Homo sapiens: one gene and its partners. The protein of the gene in region 2 interacts with the protein of the main gene of each other region in a pairwise test. Each region holds a gene or a part of one and is shown on either strand. Other genes may lie near its edges.

The links.
Region 1: the proteins of LEPROT (region 2) and SYNGR1 interact in binary tests that used the Homo sapiens proteins (3 or more experiments, as listed by UniProt).
Region 3: the proteins of LEPROT (region 2) and YIPF1 interact in binary tests that used the Homo sapiens proteins (3 or more experiments, as listed by UniProt).

Annotation. Positions count from the first base shown.
Region 1 is NC_000022.11:39,380,991-39,386,075, reverse strand, and holds the end of SYNGR1 (synaptogyrin-1), read right to left. Parts: intron 4,381-5,085; coding exon 4,162-4,380; 3' UTR 501-4,161; downstream 1-500. UniProt on the Homo sapiens protein: May play a role in regulated exocytosis. Modulates the localization of synaptophysin/SYP into synaptic-like microvesicles and may therefore play a role in synaptic-like microvesicle formation and/or maturation.
Region 2 is NC_000001.11:65,429,104-65,436,507, reverse strand, and holds the end of LEPROT (leptin receptor gene-related protein), read right to left. Parts: intron 6,647-7,404; coding exon 6,460-6,646; intron 4,706-6,459; coding exon 4,589-4,705; 3' UTR 501-4,588; downstream 1-500. UniProt on the Homo sapiens protein: Negatively regulates leptin receptor (LEPR) cell surface expression, and thus decreases response to leptin. Negatively regulates growth hormone (GH) receptor cell surface expression in liver.
Region 3 is NC_000001.11:53,879,798-53,886,797, forward strand, and holds part of YIPF1 (protein YIPF1), read right to left. Parts: intron 3,480-7,000; coding exon 3,316-3,479; intron 1-3,315.

The DNA.
Region 1 (5,085 bases), on a different chromosome or scaffold from region 2:
GCTTCAACTGTAATAATTTTCCTTTTTTTTTTTAGATGGATTTTTGCTCTTGATGCCAAGGCTGGAGTGCAATGGCACAATCTTGGCTCACTGCAACCTCTGCCTCCCCGGTTCAAGTGATTCTCCTGTCTCAGCCTCCCGAGTAGCTGGGATTACAGGCGTCTGCCACCACACCCGGCTAATTTTTTTTTTTTTTTGTATTTTTAGTAGAGACAGGTTTTCACCATGTCGGTCAGGCTGGTCTCGAACTCCTAACCTCAGGTGATCCACCCACCTTGGCCTCCCAAAGTGTTGGGATTACAGGCATGAGCCACTGCAGTCGGCCAATTTTACTTTTTAAAAAGATAATATATTCATAGGTTCATTGTGTAATGAAAAATTAACAAACAATAATAACCAAGTAAGACATGGCCTGTCTAAGGAGACAAACGGGATGGAGCATCCAAGCCAAACGCAGAATGAAGAACAAAGAAACACGGTGACACACTTGCAATCGCTGGTGGGTTCTGAGTCTTCACTTTATTACTATGTCACCAGAAGTCACCACCTTCACTTGGTTCACCACAGATGGATGGATGTCATAAAGGAGGGTGCCACGGGGCCACTGGATTCACTCGAGACTTAACCAGGTGGTGGGGGGGTCTAGAGTGGGGGCCCAGGATGGGGACCGCCCTTCACCGCACACACACGCACACACACACACAGATATATTTGTGGAGCCTTATATTATACATCTTATATATAGAAAATATATATATTTATACTATACACAGGCAGTAACGCTGCGGGAGGGGCCGGGGCACCGACAAGGGCTGTGCGCACCAGGACATGGGGAGTGTCAGGTCAAGTGCATCGCTGGGAGGCAGCCGGCCCAGTCCCTTCTCCCATAAACTCCTGGGAGGGGCATTCCCCCTTTCGTGCTCCTTAGAGAATCAAAGGGGTCTTGGGCCAAGGTTAGGGGTCTCCCAGGGCTAACAGGCAGGGTGTCTCAGTTACATGGGGAAACCTGGGATCCCCGAGGCTTTGAAGATCAAGAATCACCAGGGAAGGATGGAGTAGGGAACTAACGTCAGTCCCCTGGGAATTAGCCCCTCAACTGCGACACCCCCAGGTGGATAGGAGCCGTGCAGGCAGGACAGTCTGTGACTGCCCAGGATGAGCCAACTCAGAAGGCAGAAGACCTGACTCCTGAACCTCTCCCTCTGTGCTTGACCTTGGACAAGTCGCTGTCTCCCTACCCCAGACTCTGCCGACTCTAAGCGTCCTTGCGACTCTACACTTATGTGAAACCTTTTTTCCTGGGCCCTCTCTTGTGCTTGATGGGGAGGAGGGAGCCACCCTGCAGGGTCCAGCTGCAGGAGGGCCCTTCTCCAAGGAAAGCTTTGGGAGCAAGGGAGAAGTAGGGGAGGGCAGCTGGGAGGAAAAGGGATACCGGACAGAGTTGGGCCTGGGGTTCCCCAGGGGCTGTCCTCTGCCAACAGAAGGAGCGAGTTTCCCCATGAACCTTCCAGGGCAGAGTCAGGAGCCCTGGGTCCCATCCAAATCTCGCCCTCCATCTCTCACCCTCTCTCATCTCCATCCTGGGCAGGTCCCTGCCAGAGCCCAGCCTGATGGGGAAGATCATGCCTGGAAGGGCTTCTGGGCTGAACCCGGGAAGAGTGAGGGATTCTTCGTGAGATGACTCAGCACCCCCCATTCCTGGCAGGAGTCTTGACAGCTTTCCCTGCCTAGGGTGGCAGGCAGGGCCTGTCACAAACACCCAAGATGGAGTTAAGCTTACCTGGTACCCTGCCCTCCGGCTGAGGATCACCAGCAGCTGGCTGGCACCCGAGGAGAAACAGATGGGCAGTACCCTGAGGTCTCCTAGTGCCCATCAGCAGGAGAGGCTTTTGGTGGACAGTGGGTGAGGGTCAGAACATCTCACAGCCTCTTGTGGTGGGCACAGAACTTCACTCTGCCATAAACACTCCTGCCCTCACTCACGCCCTCACCTTTGGCCTGGTACAGGTTTCACTCTTCAGGCCAACAGATAACCTGCCCCCATGCTGGTCCCATGTGGGCCACCTGGCGGCGGGGGACTGTGGACAGAGCCCCTTCTCCGGATTGGAAAATGAAGTCAGCAACAACCAGCTGTCACACAGCTGGCTGGGGTCCTCTCCATCACTGCTGTCCTTTGGGAGGACTTGGACACACCTGAGTTTAGATCCGTGTTCCACTGCCAACTCGCCTATGCTTGCCGAGCCTCAGTTTCCCTTCTGTTAAATGGGGATAATGGTGCTACTTCTCTGCTTAGGACTTCCTCCTCTTTCCCTTAACTCTGGCCCAGCTTTGGGGCCATCGAAGCAGGGACCACCCATGCCCTTGGTATCTCCAGCACAGGGGCCGGGTAACTGCTGAGTGAGTAAGCAGGTGAGGGATCGCCTGCCTCTTAGGATTCTTAGATGGGGGATGGGGGGATGGTGGTGAAAACACCCAGCACTGGGCCCGTCCACCACCTGCTCTGCTCTGCTCCCTGAAGGACAGGCCAGTGGACACTGGGTGGACAGGGGGATGGGCCCCCAGCGCTCTCCCATACCTCCCTGTCCCTTATGGCTCAGTGAAGAGCCCACCTTGTGCAAGAATCGACCTGCCCCCACTCAGAAGAGATTATGACCTCCTCAGGCCCCACGGCCCTCTTTGGGCCTTTGGGTCACCTGCCACACTCTCCCCTACAGCCCATGGTCTTCCCTGGGCCTCCCATGCCTCAGGGGCTCTTGCCTGTGTCATCCTGGGGGCAGTGTCTCTCCACGGCCACAGCCCAGGAGCCGACCTGGCTGATTCCAAAGCCCTGTCCTTGCCGCTCTGCCTCCCATAGGGAGGCTGGCTCCACAGTGGGCCTTCTGGAAGGCCAAGGAAACACCTCTCATGCGCTTGGCTGCTGCAGCCCCCGAACCCTGACTGACCCCAGATGAGAGGAGAGGTGACATAGTGTCCCAGATCAGTTCTGTTTCCTGGGAGGTCACAAGGGCAGGGAATCGAGGCACCTGCTGGGCAGCTGGGGCCAAGAAACCCAGGCGTCAGGGCCAGCTTTGCCACTCACTCACCGTGACCTCGGGCCAGTCACACCCTCATCTGTGCCTTGTTGTCCACCCAGCCCTAGGTAAGGGCTTAGTGACCCCTCCTAGAGGCAAGGACAGTGATCAGTCCTTTGAGAGACCACGAAGGGGTTTGCTGGAGCCCCCTGGAACAAGCGTCTGTGGGACACGCAGAGCACAGAGCAGCACCCGGGGTGAGCCCTCTTGGAGGAGGCCAAGGGCCAGGGGTAGGACCAGGGGGATGTGGGTGGAGGGACCCGGAGGTGGGGCTGTCCCCAGGGGAGGAGGAACAGCTGGGGCAGAACAGGCCCTTGGCATGCAGCAGAATCAGGGTGTCTCAAGGGGCTGAGGGCCCCAAGGCCTCCCAGAATGACAGTAACACTGAGCAGGGAAGCCCCAAGCGTGGGGATGGTAGGAGGTGGGTGGCCAGGGAAGAGCACGTGGTCTGCAGTCGGGCAGCCTGGGCTTGGCCCCACCTCTATCACTAGCTGCCTGAGTGATTCTGGGCAAGTAATCTTGACCTCTCTAGACCTCAGTTTCCTCAACCATAAAATGGAGACGGCCCTGACACTCTTAGCAGGACTGCCAGAGCAGGGTGACAGCCCCCAGTGTCCTGTGGGTGTTTACACTCACCCTATGACCAAGCCACGGTGTAGCCACACTTCCCAGCATTATCTGGATCTGTCTTTCCCACCATTCTGGCCTCTGGTACCACCAGGGCTTCCTCCACAGCTCATCGCTCCCCTTTCCAGTGGCCATTTCTGCCAATGTCACCACCCATGCCCAGCACAGGCCGGATGCCCAGTAGGCGCTCAAGGAATGCTTGATGACACAATGTATGAATGCAAATACCCCTGGCCCCCACCCTCTAGGCCCCTGCGGGGCACATGCCCTGGGATATACTTGCACATACGTAGACAGTCCCCAACACTGGACTGCCCCACCCCTGCCCCGAGCTACCCTGGACCTCAGTGGGACAAGGCAGAGGCTGATGAGGCGCTGGGCAGGGCAGCCTGGGCAGGAGCAGGGGCTGGGTGTGGAGAGAGGGGACAGATGGGGAGGGGCGGGGGCAGGCGGTCACTGTGGCTCAGTAGCCCTGCGACTGGTAGCCCTGGGGCTCGGTGTCGAAGGTGTTGGCCGGCTGCTGGTAGGTGCCGCCCATACCGGCGGGATCCGGCCCAGTGGGCTCCACGTAGGGCGCGTAAGGCATGCTGGAGTCCTGGCTGGGGTCCATGTAGTCCTGGGAGAAGAGGGCCGAGTCGGCGCCAATCTGGTACCGCTGGAAGGCCAGCACAGCCTGGCCCGCCTGGGGACAAAGGCCGGCGAGGACAAGGACAGGCGGGAGGGGGTGGTTAGGGGAGAGACAGACAAGAGCACTGGGTTAGTGGTGGTTAGTTCACAGGACACAGGCAGGAGAGGGTTAAAGATCCTCAAAGCACCAAACATGAGACCAAGCTTGGCTGTGGAGAAGGAAGGCTGTTCTCGCAGCCACCCCCGGAAATGCCCAGAACCATATCATCCAGCCAGAAAGTACCCCAGAAATCACCTGCCCCTGTCTCCCAATCCCAGAGGTCAGTCTGGGCTACCAAAAGTTCTAGATCTCCATTATGGAGTGTTAAGATGGCTCAAAGGCTCACAACAGCCTTCTTAAAAAAAGCTTCTCAGCGGGACAAAGGACTGTTAGCATCTCCTAAGAGTCATTCTTTTGTCTCTCTTGCAGCTAGGCATGGCCATGTGACTACGTTTTGGCCAATGGGGTACCCTCATGTTCTCTGTCCCACCCTCTGACCTGATGCCTGGAACACAGATGTGATGGCTGGAGCTCTAATTGCCAAAAGGGACCACAAAGACCATGAGCCAAGTCTGTAGGAATGAAAGATGCCTGGGGGCCATGCACCGCGGCTCATGCCTGTAATCCCACAACTTTGATAGGCCAAGGTGGAAGGATTGCTTGAGGCCAGGAGATCAAGACCAGCCTGGGCTAAAATATGCACCTCTGGCATATTGACTA
Region 2 (7,404 bases):
ACTTTACACTTAGCTTGGCAATGCAAAGAAATAACTAGCTTGATTTCTTTACAATCTGGCTGCCTAAATCCACTAGTAAAACATCAGATCTTTCCCAAATGTTTTGTGCATAAGGAGGACATATTATTCCTTAAAGACTACTTTCTATTAGTGCATTCTTTTCTGTAGTGTGCAAAAAGACTCTTCAAAATATGTAGAGCACTTTTCTTAAGGTGTCAGGTTTTTTTCTTTTCCAATACAGCTTTTCCAATCTTCCATGTCCACCATGGGGAGTGTCAGCCACAGAAATTAAGGCCTGGATTCCTTCCAGTCAGCACAACATTCCTGAACTGTTTCTCTTCAACTACAGCAAGTACAGGCTTCAAACTGGTCAGATTCACATTAAGATTATACAGACAAAAACACTGGGAAAATTAACTTGCTGATCTCCTTTCCAAATGTAACGTACCGCAAAGTAAAATATAAACTTTTTCATTTAATAATGTACATAAAAGCCTTTGTTAAAATGTCAATAACAAGTTTTATTTACAAAGTAATCGTCCTCTCACATCACATTTGGGGTTACATGTATCACTGTTGTACGCTGGTAGCATGGCTATTTGAAAGATTATAATTTATGAGCTATTACTCAGTGGGATTTTTGCAATAAGGTACTTCATGAGACAAAATGGAAAAAGGAGAATTAAATTAAAATGCACAACTAATATTTATCTACTACAGACATAATATTTCTCAGTTGTGAACTAATTACTATGCTTGGAAAATGCTAGCATCCTCATAAATATTTTGGTTCTATTGGGATACAAAATCTGATTTCGCAAACTTTGCAAAGGCACATTTTGGCTGGGCACAGTGGCTCAGGCCTGTAATCCCAGCACTTTGGGAGGCAGAGGCGGGCGGATCATGAGGTCAGGAGATCGAGACCATCCTGGCTAACACGATGAAACCCGTCTTTACTAAAAATACAAAAAAATTAGCCAGGCGTGGTGGCGGGAGCCTGTAGTCCCAGCTCCTTGGGAGGCTGAGGCAGGAGAATGGCGTGAACCCGGGAGGCGGAGCTTGCAGTGAGCCAAGATCGCACCACTGCACTCCAGCCTGGGCAACAGAGCGAGACTCTGCCTCAAAAAAAAAAAAAAAAAAAGAAAAGAAAAGGCACATTTTGTGACACCACCTAAGCATTTCCCTGAGAACATAAAGAAGGTTATTAACATAATGAACTATTTCAGCCTTGAAAACAGTATTCATTGAGGAGATACCTCAGAGGTAAGGACTTCCTTAGGACAGTAAGAAAAATCTATGAGTTCTTAAGTGGAAGAAAAGAAACAACTATGAAAAGCAGGACCAGCTCAGAACTCCTCCTGAGGAAGAGATGAGGTATGACAGGATTTTCCCTGTCCCAAAATATTGCTATCCTTCTATAAGCTGCTGGAATCTTTCTTCATTCCGTTCTCCCATTCTCTGTGAATGAGAATCAGTGGGTTATGAGGCATTCTCTAAAAACGCAGGTGCAGCAGTCATGGGAATGGCAGTCGGCCCAATGCAGGTGTCAAAAGGAATTTCAGATGTGGAGAAGATAATCACAAGGCATTCTTTCTGTGATGAAGTGTGATCTGCTTTCTTCTCAGCACCACATGACATCAGCTGTACTTAGAGAACTGACTAATGGGAGGAGAAGGGTGGGTGACTCTGGAATATGAAGAACCTCAGGAGGGAGGATGGAGCCCAGTGGGAAGGTTCTCAGTTGGGAGAGGTGAACAAAACTCCCAGGAGTGTACCTGGATCTCAAGGGCATTAGGAGGTGAAAATGAGTGGAAAAATTAAAAGGAGAAAGACCTTGTTCTTAGGAAAAGGGGTGGAAAGTTGCACTGTCCTTCCTCCAAACTACTCACACTACCCTGTCTCAGAGACCCAAAACTCAGGCAGGCACCTTCAGTATCACAGGTTAGGTATATTAGAGTTGAACCTGTTGAGGGAGGCTTGGCCTGGGAACTCAATCACCAATTCATAGTATTGTTTCTGTGGAAAAGTGTCTCAAAGTCTGCTTGTAACCCACTTGTTTGAAACATGATAAAGAATCCCTTCATAAGATTATTTACTTGTGGCCAATTTTGGAAGTGCAATCTCAGTTTTCGACTATAGTCACTATGCTCTGAATCTCCAAATATATTGTACAATATATAAAAAAAGAGCCTTTTATAAGGAAAAAAATGTCCAACATTTGTGTCACCATGATCAAACTTTTGTATTATATATTCAGATATAGCAATATTTCCTATTAATATTTACTGTTTAAATGATATTTAGGCACTGCAGAATAGCTCTCTTTTCAGACATAGAGCAAATCTAATAATCTATCACTTCAAATACTCTATATGCAAGTACTTTATATCAATCTAAAGATACAATCAAGAGGTAATGCTTTAAGGCTACATATGAAGGCTACCTTGGTTATTGAAAATGTGTATAAGCAACAAAAACACTTTTGCAAAATGTAGTAGAAATGAATCATTATTGCCATCTTAGAAAGAAAAGCTATTGCACACCAACTAGACATTCAAGATGGTATCCTAAAACTTATTGCTACTGTTCTGTTAGGACAGATTATTGCTCAAAACTGCCCATTTTAAAACATCAAGAAATTCTCTCATTTTTGTTATCTTTTCAGGCAAGGCAACATCACAAAAAAATTTTAAAGTTAAACTTTTAAAGTTAAAAGTGAAATTTATTACAATACAATAAATGCAAGTGTCATTATTAAAAATGCCGGTTAAAATTATAAAGTATCTAAATAATTTTTCTAATATAAATATTGGAAATGACAACTTTAACAATTCTATATGTACACAGGACACTGAAAACATAAAATCATGAACAAGGCCAAAAAATAACGTTGCACATTAACCCTTTAGTTATTACTTTCTATTTTCCAGTCCCAGCATCATACCTGCTAATTACTCAGATCACAAGCCTCAAGGATTAAGTGTTTTGAATGTATTTCAGTTTCATACTTTAACAATGCTTAAAGACTATTGGTTGTATTCTGATCAAATGGTTCTCCTTCCCATATTTCCCTTTCTCAATAGATCTTAGACAAAAAGGTGAGCAGGGAAAACTGTGATTACAGGATCCAACATGACAGGTATACCCAATGATTCATTTAAGGGTGGCATAAAGTTATATAGAAAAGACCTACAGGACGGAAGACAAGTACATCAACACGTAGTGAAATTAAGCAGTTCACCCACTGCGTGCTTACATGGCTCCTATATCTCTTCGGGAAGAAGCCAGAGCCGTAGAGAAGTCAGGGCAAACCAGAACTGTTGAGGAGTAGGGGTGGGGGGCAGAGGGAAGGAGCTGGGGAGAAGTGCCAGATCATAAAGGAAATGTAAAAGAGTTACCTATCTGTTCTCCCCCTCCTGCTAACGCAGGGGCTGGCTCGAGCCCAGCCTCCCTGCCCGCATCTCAGTGGAGCTCTTCCCCCAGCATTGTCTTTCAGATGAAAAGATACATCTGTTCCCCACTGAGATGTTTTTTTGGGGGAGAGAGTATGTTTTGTTTTTTATTTTGATTATATATTGACAAATTATTGTATATTTTTATAGGGTACAATACGGTTTTATGATTTTTGAATATAAGGTGGAATGATTACACTAATTAACATATGATCTCAAATATTTAACTTTTTTATGAGAACATTAGAAATTTACTCTCTTAGCAATATTGAAATATACATTCAATTATTCCTATATTTAGCATGCTGTGCAAGTGATCTTTAAAAAAAAATCACACTTATTCCTCCTAACTGAGGCTTTGTACCCTTTGACTGTCTCCCAATTCTGAGAACACTTTTCATAAATTTGAGGAACTGCCTAAATATTATAGGCTTGAACATCTGAACTTGTCCTCAGCATGAAAGCAGGTGAGACTTTTTTTTTTTTTTTAAACAAATGAGCAGGTAACACCCAGAGAGGTTAAGTGGTTTAGCCACTGGAAAGATAAGGAAGTTGGGTGTGATGTTTACTTCTCTATGATGATGCTTCTCAAACTTTCATGTGCATACAACTCCTTTGGATCTCATCAAAATGTCCTGGGTCCAGAGTGGGGCTTCAGATTCTGCATTTCTAATAAGGCTCTAGGAAATGTTGAGGCTCTTGGTCTGTGGGCCACACTTTTAATAGCATGGACTACAACACAAAGAGGGATCCACCCCGGCCTTCCTGGGTCATGAGAGGCCTGCTTCAGCGTTATCTGCCTCTCCAAGCACATCCCCAAGCAAAAGGTTTCGATGCACTGCATAAGGTGGCAGCTGCCTACAAGACTGCGTTAATATATTTTCTGAGAGCACCGTGACTACATGAACAGCCAAACAAGTAACATAATTTGAGTAACATAATCTAAATTTGACAGGTCTATTTGCTGAGAATAAAACTCATCTCCTACTTATGAAGTCTTTCTTAAAGTGAACATGATATATAAAGGTATTAAAAAACCCAGCATATTAAATTTCATAGTAAAATGCCGCATGTGCACATGTATACAGATAGTATGAGTTCTAAGAAATTCAATGCACTGTAATCAGAATAAAGTGCTACCACTGCTCCCAGCTAAAATCATCTCCTCTTCCAAATATAAGGAAAAACCCTTGAATTGTAAGGAAAATGACTGCATTGCCTGCCAACACAAGGCCGCAGGCTCCCCATTTGATCTGAAAGACAAGAAAAGAAGGATTAAATCCTTACTTCCTTCATATTGTACTCTTTGCAATCCCTATTATTTTCTGCATTAGAAACATCCAATGAAATGTTACACAAAGCTGCTAAAAGGCTTAATAATGTAACAGGAGACAATGAACTGTTCAGTAATGAGTCTAATTACTTCTGTGATGCTTGTTAATTAAGTCTGGTATCATCCTTAACATGTTCCCAATTAGACATATTTCTCTACTTGTTTTTAATTGACAATGATTGCCTTAAGTAAAACTCAAGTGGTAAGATTATAAATAGTGCAATTACAATATTGGGTACTGAAAGTTCTGCACACATCAACTTCTTTCATGGAAAATAAAAATTGTAGAGTTATAAATTTGTGTGTTTCTTTTCTAGGCAAGAAAAGACTTTAAATAATAGTCTTCATACAACTGAAAACTGCTTTCCAGCTTAGTAGATGGTTTGTAGATGGTTTTACAGAAGCACATTTGGGGGTGAGAGTACCCTCTAGTGGGCATTTTTTGTTTTACTTTAAGCAAGAGAAACATCAATGAAAGTTTCTTCACAAAATATGATGGCAGTATTGAAAGGAAAAAATATAAATATTTACTGCAGCGCTTAAGAAGGGCTGGTCTAAAGCACAAGAAAAATAAAGTCATGACAATCTTGTTGTATTCAAAAACCTTCAATCTTTCCCCATTATCTAGACAAAGATCAAACTGGCATGGGGTTCAAGACCATTGCTAATCAGGTTTCACAACCCTTCCAGCCTTAACCTCAACAACTTTCTTTTAGCTCTACCACACTGGATTCTTCTTTATTCTATATACTGCATTCTTACACTTGAATGTCATTCCATACAACAGCCATCCTACCTCAATACAAATGCTATTTATCCTTAGAGGCCCATATCAAATGCCAGTCGGAATTTCTCTCTTCTTGGTGCCCCTATGGCATTCTGATCATGCTTCAACCGTCTCACTTAGTACACTTATAGTATACTTACCCAGCAAGCTAGTTTCTGTGTTCCTCAGGAGCAGAGACAGTACCTATTTCTTATTTCTGGTGTTTTACAAGTAGCAGTTGTTGCAAAGATATTTATTGAATGAACAAGACTTGCGCTTATCTGATATTCAATGCCTCAAATAAGAGTTTCATAAAATTAAAATAGAACGTAATTGGAGGGAATAAAATCAAATAGTAGGAAAGACAGTGAATAGCAAATAATTGAATAAATTATACCTACAATGTGTACTCTGAAGACAAAAAGAAAGTTTTTGTCTTGGAAGTGAAGATGTCAACTTATTCACTGCATTTTCTGGAAGCTACACAGTTGTCCCTCAACATATACCTATTATACTGAGTTGAGAGTTGAGTCCATGATCCCATTTGCAGGAGAAGAATTTGAAATATCTTCATCTTGCAACTAGAAAAGTACTGCTAGCATAGTATCTGTGGATTACTGTAAGATTTAAGAGGCAGGAATTTAAGAACAATTCCAGAGAATAGCTTAAAGTAGAAAAAGTAAGAAATCATATCGTCTGGCTAAAAGTTGTAAGAGAAATAAAGAAAGCACTCTGAAGGCATGGCCGAACTACTGTTAGGCAGGTCTAAAGTAGAGGAACAGAGAAACTAAAAACACACGGCCTTGAGTATAAAGCCTAAGTAATGAGCATGAAATGGAGGTCCCAGACACAGGCCTCTGAAGTAAACTCAGCAACGGTTGGGCAAAACAATAGAAAATAAAACTTACCACAGCCACACGAGCAAGAATAACAGGAAATCCAAAGGCAGAAACAACAATTCCAGTAGTGAAGAAATATGCCAGTTCCCGACAGGCACTACTGGTTGCATCTGAGTCATAGGTGACTCTTTTGGCAATGAAATGGGGGATGGGGGAGATGGCGTGGAAAATCAGGACGAATAAGGGCCAGTAAACGCTGTCAGTTGGACCCAGGCAAAATCCAAAAAGAAAAGTAACAGTTACATTTTAAATGAAAGACATACTACTATTTCAAAATCATTGCTATTTTAAATGTTTAGGTCAAAAAATTAATTAATTGTGAATATTAGAACATAAGATGATTTCTACCAGGGATAGATAAGTAGTGATAATTTTAAAATTACTATGTAGGTAGCTTATATTGTGTTAAGAAGCCACTATATAATATATACCCTAGAAACTTTACTGTTTTCTGTACCACTGAGCCACAATTTCTTTAAAGACAGAATTTTAACTTGGTCATTTCTGCCTTCCCTATAGAACATAGTAGAGTGTCTTGCAAAAGCTAGTTCGGTAAAGATCTTTTGAGTGCACGCATGCTTGAAACCTTTTAAGAGCTTAGAATAAACCCTAAATTCCTTGCCCTAGCCTACAAAGCCTTTATGGTCTGGTATTATCTACTTCTTCCATTCATTTTGTACTCTTTTCCCTTCATTTGCTTAATCTGTAGCCACACCAGCCTTTTTTCTGTCCCTTGAACACTCTTGAGCTCATAGCTGTTATCCTGGGGCCTTTGCGCTAGCTGTGCCCCCTGCTTGCAATGTCCTTCCCCATGATCTTCTCATTGGCTGACTCCTTCATACCATGTGATCTAAACTGACAGATTCCTTTCTAAAAGCAGAACTTTCCCTGGTCATCTATTCTAATGTACCCCAGGTCACCCTCGAACATACCACCCTCTTTGAACTTTCTGCA
Region 3 (7,000 bases), about 12 Mb from region 2:
GAATGAATTCAGCACCTTCAACTGAAATACCCAGGTTCTTGCATTGGGACTGACTAGGCAAGTAGCTCGACCCACGGAGAATGAAGAAAAGCAGGGTGGGGCGATGGCTCACCCAGGAGCAGCACGGAGACAAAGGAACACCCATCCCCAACCAAGGAAAGCATTCCCCTTGAAAACCAGCACAAGACATGGATGCCCTCTCTTATCACTCCTATTCAATAGTATTAGAAGTTCTGGCCAGGGCAATCAGGGAAGAGAAACAAATAAAGGGTATTCAAATAGGAAGAGGGTATTCAAATAGGAAGAGAGTAAGTCAAATCACCTTTGTTTGCAAGATGACATGTTTCTATATCTAAAAAACCCCATCATCTCAGCCCAAAAGCTTCTTAAGCTGGTAAGCAACTTCAGCAAAGTCTCAGGATACAAAATCAATGTGCAAAAATTGTTAGTATTCCTATACACCGACAACAGGCAAGCAGAGGGCCAAATTATGAATGAACTCTCGTTCTTTTGTATGAATGAACTGCTACAAAAAGAATAAAATACCTAGGAACAAGGGAAGTAAAGGACCTCTTCAAAGAAAACTATAAACTACTGCTCAAAGAAATAAGAGAGGACACAAACAAATGGAAAAACATTCCATGCTCATAGTTAGGAAGAATCAGTATTGTGCAAATGGCATACTGCCCAAAGTAATTTATAGATTCAATGCCACTCCCAGTAAACTACCATTGACATTCTTCACGGAATTAGAAAAAAACTATTTTAAAATTCATATGGAATCAAAAGAGAGCCCAAATAGTCAAGACAATCCTAAGCAAAAAGAACAAAGCTGGAGGCATCATGCTACCTGACTTCAAACTAAACTACAAGTCTACAGTAACCAAAACAGCATGGTACTGGTACAAGAACAGACACATAGACCAATGAAACAGAACAGAGAACTCAGAAATAAGAATGCACGTCTACAACCATCTGATCTTCGAAAAACCTGACAAAAACAAGCAATGGGGAAAGGATTCCCTATTCAATAAATAGTGCTGGGAGAACTGGCTAGCCATATGCAGAAAACTGAAACTGGACCCCTTCCTTATACCATAAGCAAAAATTAACTCAAGGTGGATTAAAGACTTAAATGTAAAACACAAAACTAAAAAAACCCTAGAAGAGAATCTAGGGAATACCAGCTGGGCGCGGTGGCTCATGCCTGTAATCCCAGCACTTTGGGAGGCCAAGATGGGTGGATCATGAGGTAAGGAGTTCGAGACCAGCCTGGCCAATATGGTGAAACCCCGTCTCTACTAAAAATACAAAAATTAGTTGGGCATGGTGGCACGTGCCTGTAGTCCCAGCTGCTTGGGAGGCTGAGGCAGGAGAATCGCTTGAACCCAGGAGGCGGAGGTTGCAATGAGCCTCCAGCCTAGGCGACAAAGCAAGACTCCATCTCAAAAAAAAAAAAAAAAAGAAAAAGAAAGAAAATCTAGGGAATACCAATCAGGACATAGGCATGGGCAAAGATTTCATGATGAAAACACCAAAAGCAATTGCAACAAAAGCAAAAATTGACAAATGGGATCTAATTAAACTAAAGAGCTTCTGCACAGCAAAAGAAACTATCTTCAGAGTGAACAGACAACCTACAGAATGAGAGAAAATTTTTGCAATCTATCCATCTAACAAAGGTCTAATATCCAGAGTCTACAAAGTACTTAAGCAAATTTACAAGGAAAAAACAACTCCATTAAAAAGTGGGCAAGGGACATGAACAGACACTTCTCAAAAGACATACATGTGGCCAAAAAACATATGAAAGAAAGCTCAATATCTTGATTTGAGAAATGCAAATCAAAACCACAATGAGACACCATATCATGCCAGTCAGAATGGTGATTATTAAAAAGTCAAGAAACAACAGATGCTAGTGAAGTTGCGGAGAAAAAGGAATGCTTTTACACTGTTGGTGGGAGTGTAAATTAGTTCAACCATTGTGGAAGACAGTGTGGCGATTCCTCAAAGACCTAGAGGCAGAAATACTATTTGACCCAGCAATCCCATTACTGGGTATATACCCAGAGAAATATAAATCATTCTATTATAAAGATACATGCACATTTATGTTCACTGCAGCACTATTCACAATAGCAAAGATACGGAATCAACCTAAATGCCCATCAATGATAGACTGGATAAAGAAAATATGGTATATATACAACCATGGAATACTACGCAGCCAGAAAAAGGAATGAGATCATGTCCTTTGCAGGGACATGGATGGAGTTGGAAGCCATTATCCTTAGCAAACTAACACAGGAACAGAAAACCAAACACCACATCTTCTCACTTATAAGTGGGAGCTGAATGGTGAGAACACATGGACACATGGGAGGGGGAGCATCAGGAAGAAGAGCTAATGGATGCTGGGCTTAATACCTAGGTGATGGGGTGATCTGTGCAGCAAACCACTGTGGCACATGTTTACCTATGTAACAAACCTGTACCTCCTGCACATGACCCCTGAAGTTAAAATAAAAGTCGAAGAAAAAACATTAAAGAAAAACATTTTCACAATTAAAGTCGACAGTGGCAGCAACTGCCTTACATGGTGGTAAACAGCCCATTCCTGGAGGTACTCAAGCAAGTGTTTTCAATCTTTCCTTTTTTTTTTTTTCTTTCTTCTGGAGACAGGGTCTCACTCTGTTGCCGAGGCTGGAGTGTAGTGGTGCAATCTCAGCTCACTGCAACCTCTACTCCCCAAGCTCAAGCAATCCTCCCACCTTAGTTTCCCGAGTAGCTGGGGCTACAGGTGTCCACCACCATACTCGGCTAATATTTTGTACTTTTTGTAGAGGTGGAGTTTCACCATGTTGCCCAGGCTGGTCTCGAACTCCTGGGCTCAAGTGATCTGCCCGCCTCAGCCTCCCAAAATGCTGGGATTATATGCGTGAGCCACCACGCCTGGCTCCAAGTGTTATCTTTCCTACATAGCAAGGACAGCATCAATATCTCAGGAGAGAGGCTAAAACAGAGGGCCATGAAGGTTCTTTCCTACTCTAATATTAGAAAATATTGAGCATGGGAGTCCCACATTCCATAAGCTAGGATCTCTGCTCACTACCCCAGTGTTCCCCTCCACAAGTGTACTTACGGAAAGTAATGGTCTGTTTGCCTGTTTCCCCCACCAAGGAAGAGGCCATGTGTCATTTACCTCTGAGCTGTCATTGCCTGACACTGTACCTGGCACACAGTAGACAGTGAATAAGCACATAAACAAGCTTTAAAAATTGTTTAAAAAATATCTCAAAGACAAGTTCAAACCTCAGTTTTGTCAGAGTCATCATTTCCCAGTAACTCATCATCTTCTTCTCTTCCTGAGCCTCTTGGGGATCCTGGCTGATGTTTTGGGGTTTCACCAGGATCCTCAATGTTTACTGTGGTGGCATCTGGGTTTGCTGTCAGAGAAGTGGCTGCATTGCCAAATTCTGAAATCAATTAGAGCACACGGGCCTCAGAAACCTTACCCACACTAGAAATGCTATACTTTGAATTTAAAGACAAGCTGTCACAACCTCAGCTTTGCTATAGACCCTACCTGATACAAAGGGCAAAAGCTTTGAAAAACAAAAAATCTCATCAGGAGATCAATCTGATATAGAAAAATGACTATGAAGACAACAGAATTTGGAGTCAGACCTAGATTTTGGTTCTGGCTCAGCTAGCCACTTACTAAATACACAAGCCTGAGTAAGTAACTAAACCCCTCTAAACCTCAGTGTTTTCATCTGTATCATGGGGAGAATAACATTTATTTTAAATAATTTTGGGAGAACAAGGAATATAATCTAAGTCCTAAACTTTACTTCTTTGATTCAAGTCCAAAAAATTTTAATGAAGGTTATTTTTTCCAGTAAGTCTACATAATCACTACAGAAAATATGGGAACAAAAATGAAAGTGGGATCAGCTGCGCACAGTGACTCACGCCTGTAATCCCAGCACTTTGGGAGGCCAAGGCAGGCGGATCACCTGAGGTCAGGAGTTCGACCAGCCTGGCCAACATGGTGAAATGCTGTCTCTACTAAAAATACAAAAATTAGCCGGGTGTAGTGGCACATGCCTTGTAATCCCAGTTATGCTGGAGGCTGAGACAGGAGAATCACTTGAACCCAGGAGGCAAAGGTTGCAGTGAGCCGAGATCACACCACTGCACTCCAGCCTGTGTGACAGAGTGAGACTATGTCTCAAAAAAAAAGGAAAAAAGAAAGTAGAAATCACAGGATAAAAACCACTCTTAGGCCAGGCATGGTGGCTCATGTCTATAATTCCAGCACTTTGGGAGGCCAAGGCAAGAGGACTGCTCGAGCCTCAGAGGTAGAGGCTGCAGTGAGCCGTGATCATACCACTGTACTCCAGCCTGGGCAAGAGAGTAAGACTTTGTCTCAAAAAAAAAAAAAAAAACCCAAAAAACAAAAAAACACTCTTAGTTCTACCACATAAAGGCAAACACTATTAACATTTTAGTATATTTCCTTTTCTTCACATAGTGAGATTCATGCCACTGATGATCATTCATTTATTCAACAAATATTTACTGCATGCCCACAATGTGCCAAGTACTGATCTAGAACATGATACTATAATTAATTTTGCATCCTGCTTTGTCAAGATTATGTAAAATTGGGGATTATACACAAAAATGATTTTTCATATAACAGTCTCTTAAAATGATCACTTATGTGACTGCATAATATTCCATCAATGAAGGTTTTCTTACAAATACAAAAGGAGTGTCTGTGTAGAAAAAGCTTTTTGGGGGGCAGCCTTAAGATGAACACCTATCAGTGTGATCACTAGGTCAACAGGGTGCAAACCATTTTCAAGGATCCTGAACCATGTTACCAAACTGCTTTCCAAAAGAACCTTACCTACTTGTGTCCACCAGCAGTGATTGAGACTTCCTGTCTCCGAATATCCTAACATACTTTATTTCAGCTGCTCTTGAATAAAATTCAGGGCAGCTCTGAACCTTCGAAGGCCAAAGGAAGAGTGCCAGCAGGGCACCATTATAACACTACAAGCAGGGCACCAGTCCTAGCAGTAGGACAGCTGAGTTCACTCTTATTGCCTCTCAACTATATGAGCAGTTTTATGGAGAACACTAAAGTGACTGAAATTAATCAGGTAGCTAATATGCAACAATTACTGAAGCCTCAATTGGCAATGTTTGGGTAGTTTAAGCAACATGAGGTTCTGGAGTGAGATGGTCCTTTGTTCAAGGTAAGACTCTTAATACTCAGTAGCTCCATGACCTTGAGCAAATTACTCCATGGCTCTGAGTCTCTGTTTCTTCAATTATAAAACATAGATAATACCTACCCCACAAAGAGATTTTGAGGATGATGAAATAATAACTATCATTACAGGTACCTCTTATTGATTGTACAGGGCAATGACATTTAAAAAGATAGTCACAACTTTGCTGGAGGGAATTAGACCAAGGAAGATATACTTAACTCTCACAGTTAAAAAGCAGTAGTTAAAATAACTAGAAAAGTATAACTGAAGCTGGGCGTGGTGGCACACACAAACTGGTGGTCCCAGCTACTTGGGACGCTGAGGCAGGAGAATCGCTTGAACCCAGGAGGCAGAGGTTGCAGTGAGCCGAGATCGCACCACTGCACTCCAGCCTGGCAACAGAGTGAGACTCTGTCTCACAAAAAAAGAAAGAAAAGTAAAGTATAACTGGGCTGGATGCAGTGGCTCACGCCTGTAATCCCAGCACTTTGGGAGGCTGAGGCGAGCAGATCACTTGAGGTCAGGAGTTCGAGACCAGGCTGGCCAACATGGTAAAAACCCATCTCTACTAAAAACATAAAAATTAGCTAGGCATGTTGGTGGACACGTGTAATCCCAGCTACTCAGGAGGGTGAGGCACAAGAATCGCTTGAAATGGGAGGTGAAGGATGCAATGATCTGAGATCATGTCACTGCACTCCAGCCTGGGTGACAGAGCGAGACTCGGTCTCAAAAAAAAAAAAAAAAAAAGAGAGAAAAAGAGTATAATTGGATTGTTTGTAATACAAAGGATAAATGCTTGAAGTGATGGACACCCTGTTTACCCTGATGCAATTACTACACATTACATGCCTGTATCAAAATATATGAGTGTACCCTGTAAGTATATATACCTACTACATACCCATGAAAATTAAAAAATTTTTAAAAAGCAGTAGTTTACCAGGGGGAAGGAATGCCAGAAGGAGGAACAGACAGTACCACTTTAGAAGCACAAAGGTCAAAAAGGCCCCAAGGAGGGCGATAACTCCTCTAGTTATTGGGATCAGGAAAGGTTTCTTGGAGAAGATACCATATGAGAAGGATGGCCAGAGGTGCTGGGGATGGCATCTCATGCAAAGGGAAGGGGATGAGCAAGACCCAGAAGATGGAAAGTGTGCCCGTGATGGAGGGACAGTGACGGCATAGTTTGACTGGAGTGTGGGCTGCGTGTACCCCTAACATGACGACTCTTCACACAGTCTGCTCTGTGCTGGTTATTCTTGTCCATCTCAGCTCCTTGAGCATAAAACTGGTATGTGTCTTATTTCTGCCACCAACATTCTCTGCTTTTACATCCTGGCATATCCTAAGCTAGTTTCAGCCTCTGCTCCTTTCCTGAAACAATGCCTTTCACCTGAAGGCTTCTGACCTCTACTTTTTCATCCAATACTACCGTTCCTCCCCGGAGAAGCCTTTCATGACCCACCCCCCGCCACCCCACCCCCAGCATCCTGTGTGCTTTTCTAAAGACCCAAGTCCTTAACACAGTTGATAAAGCCCTGGGTGATTTGTCACCTGCCTCCTCCTAAGCCTCACCTTGTGTCAGCTTTCCCCACCATCCGTGATCTGGAACACAAGTGTTCTCCCAATCCTTTAGGAAAAAAATTAAACTTCCTCACTCCACAGGGGCTTTTGCGAGGGCCACTGTCTTTAAACTTTCTTGCACT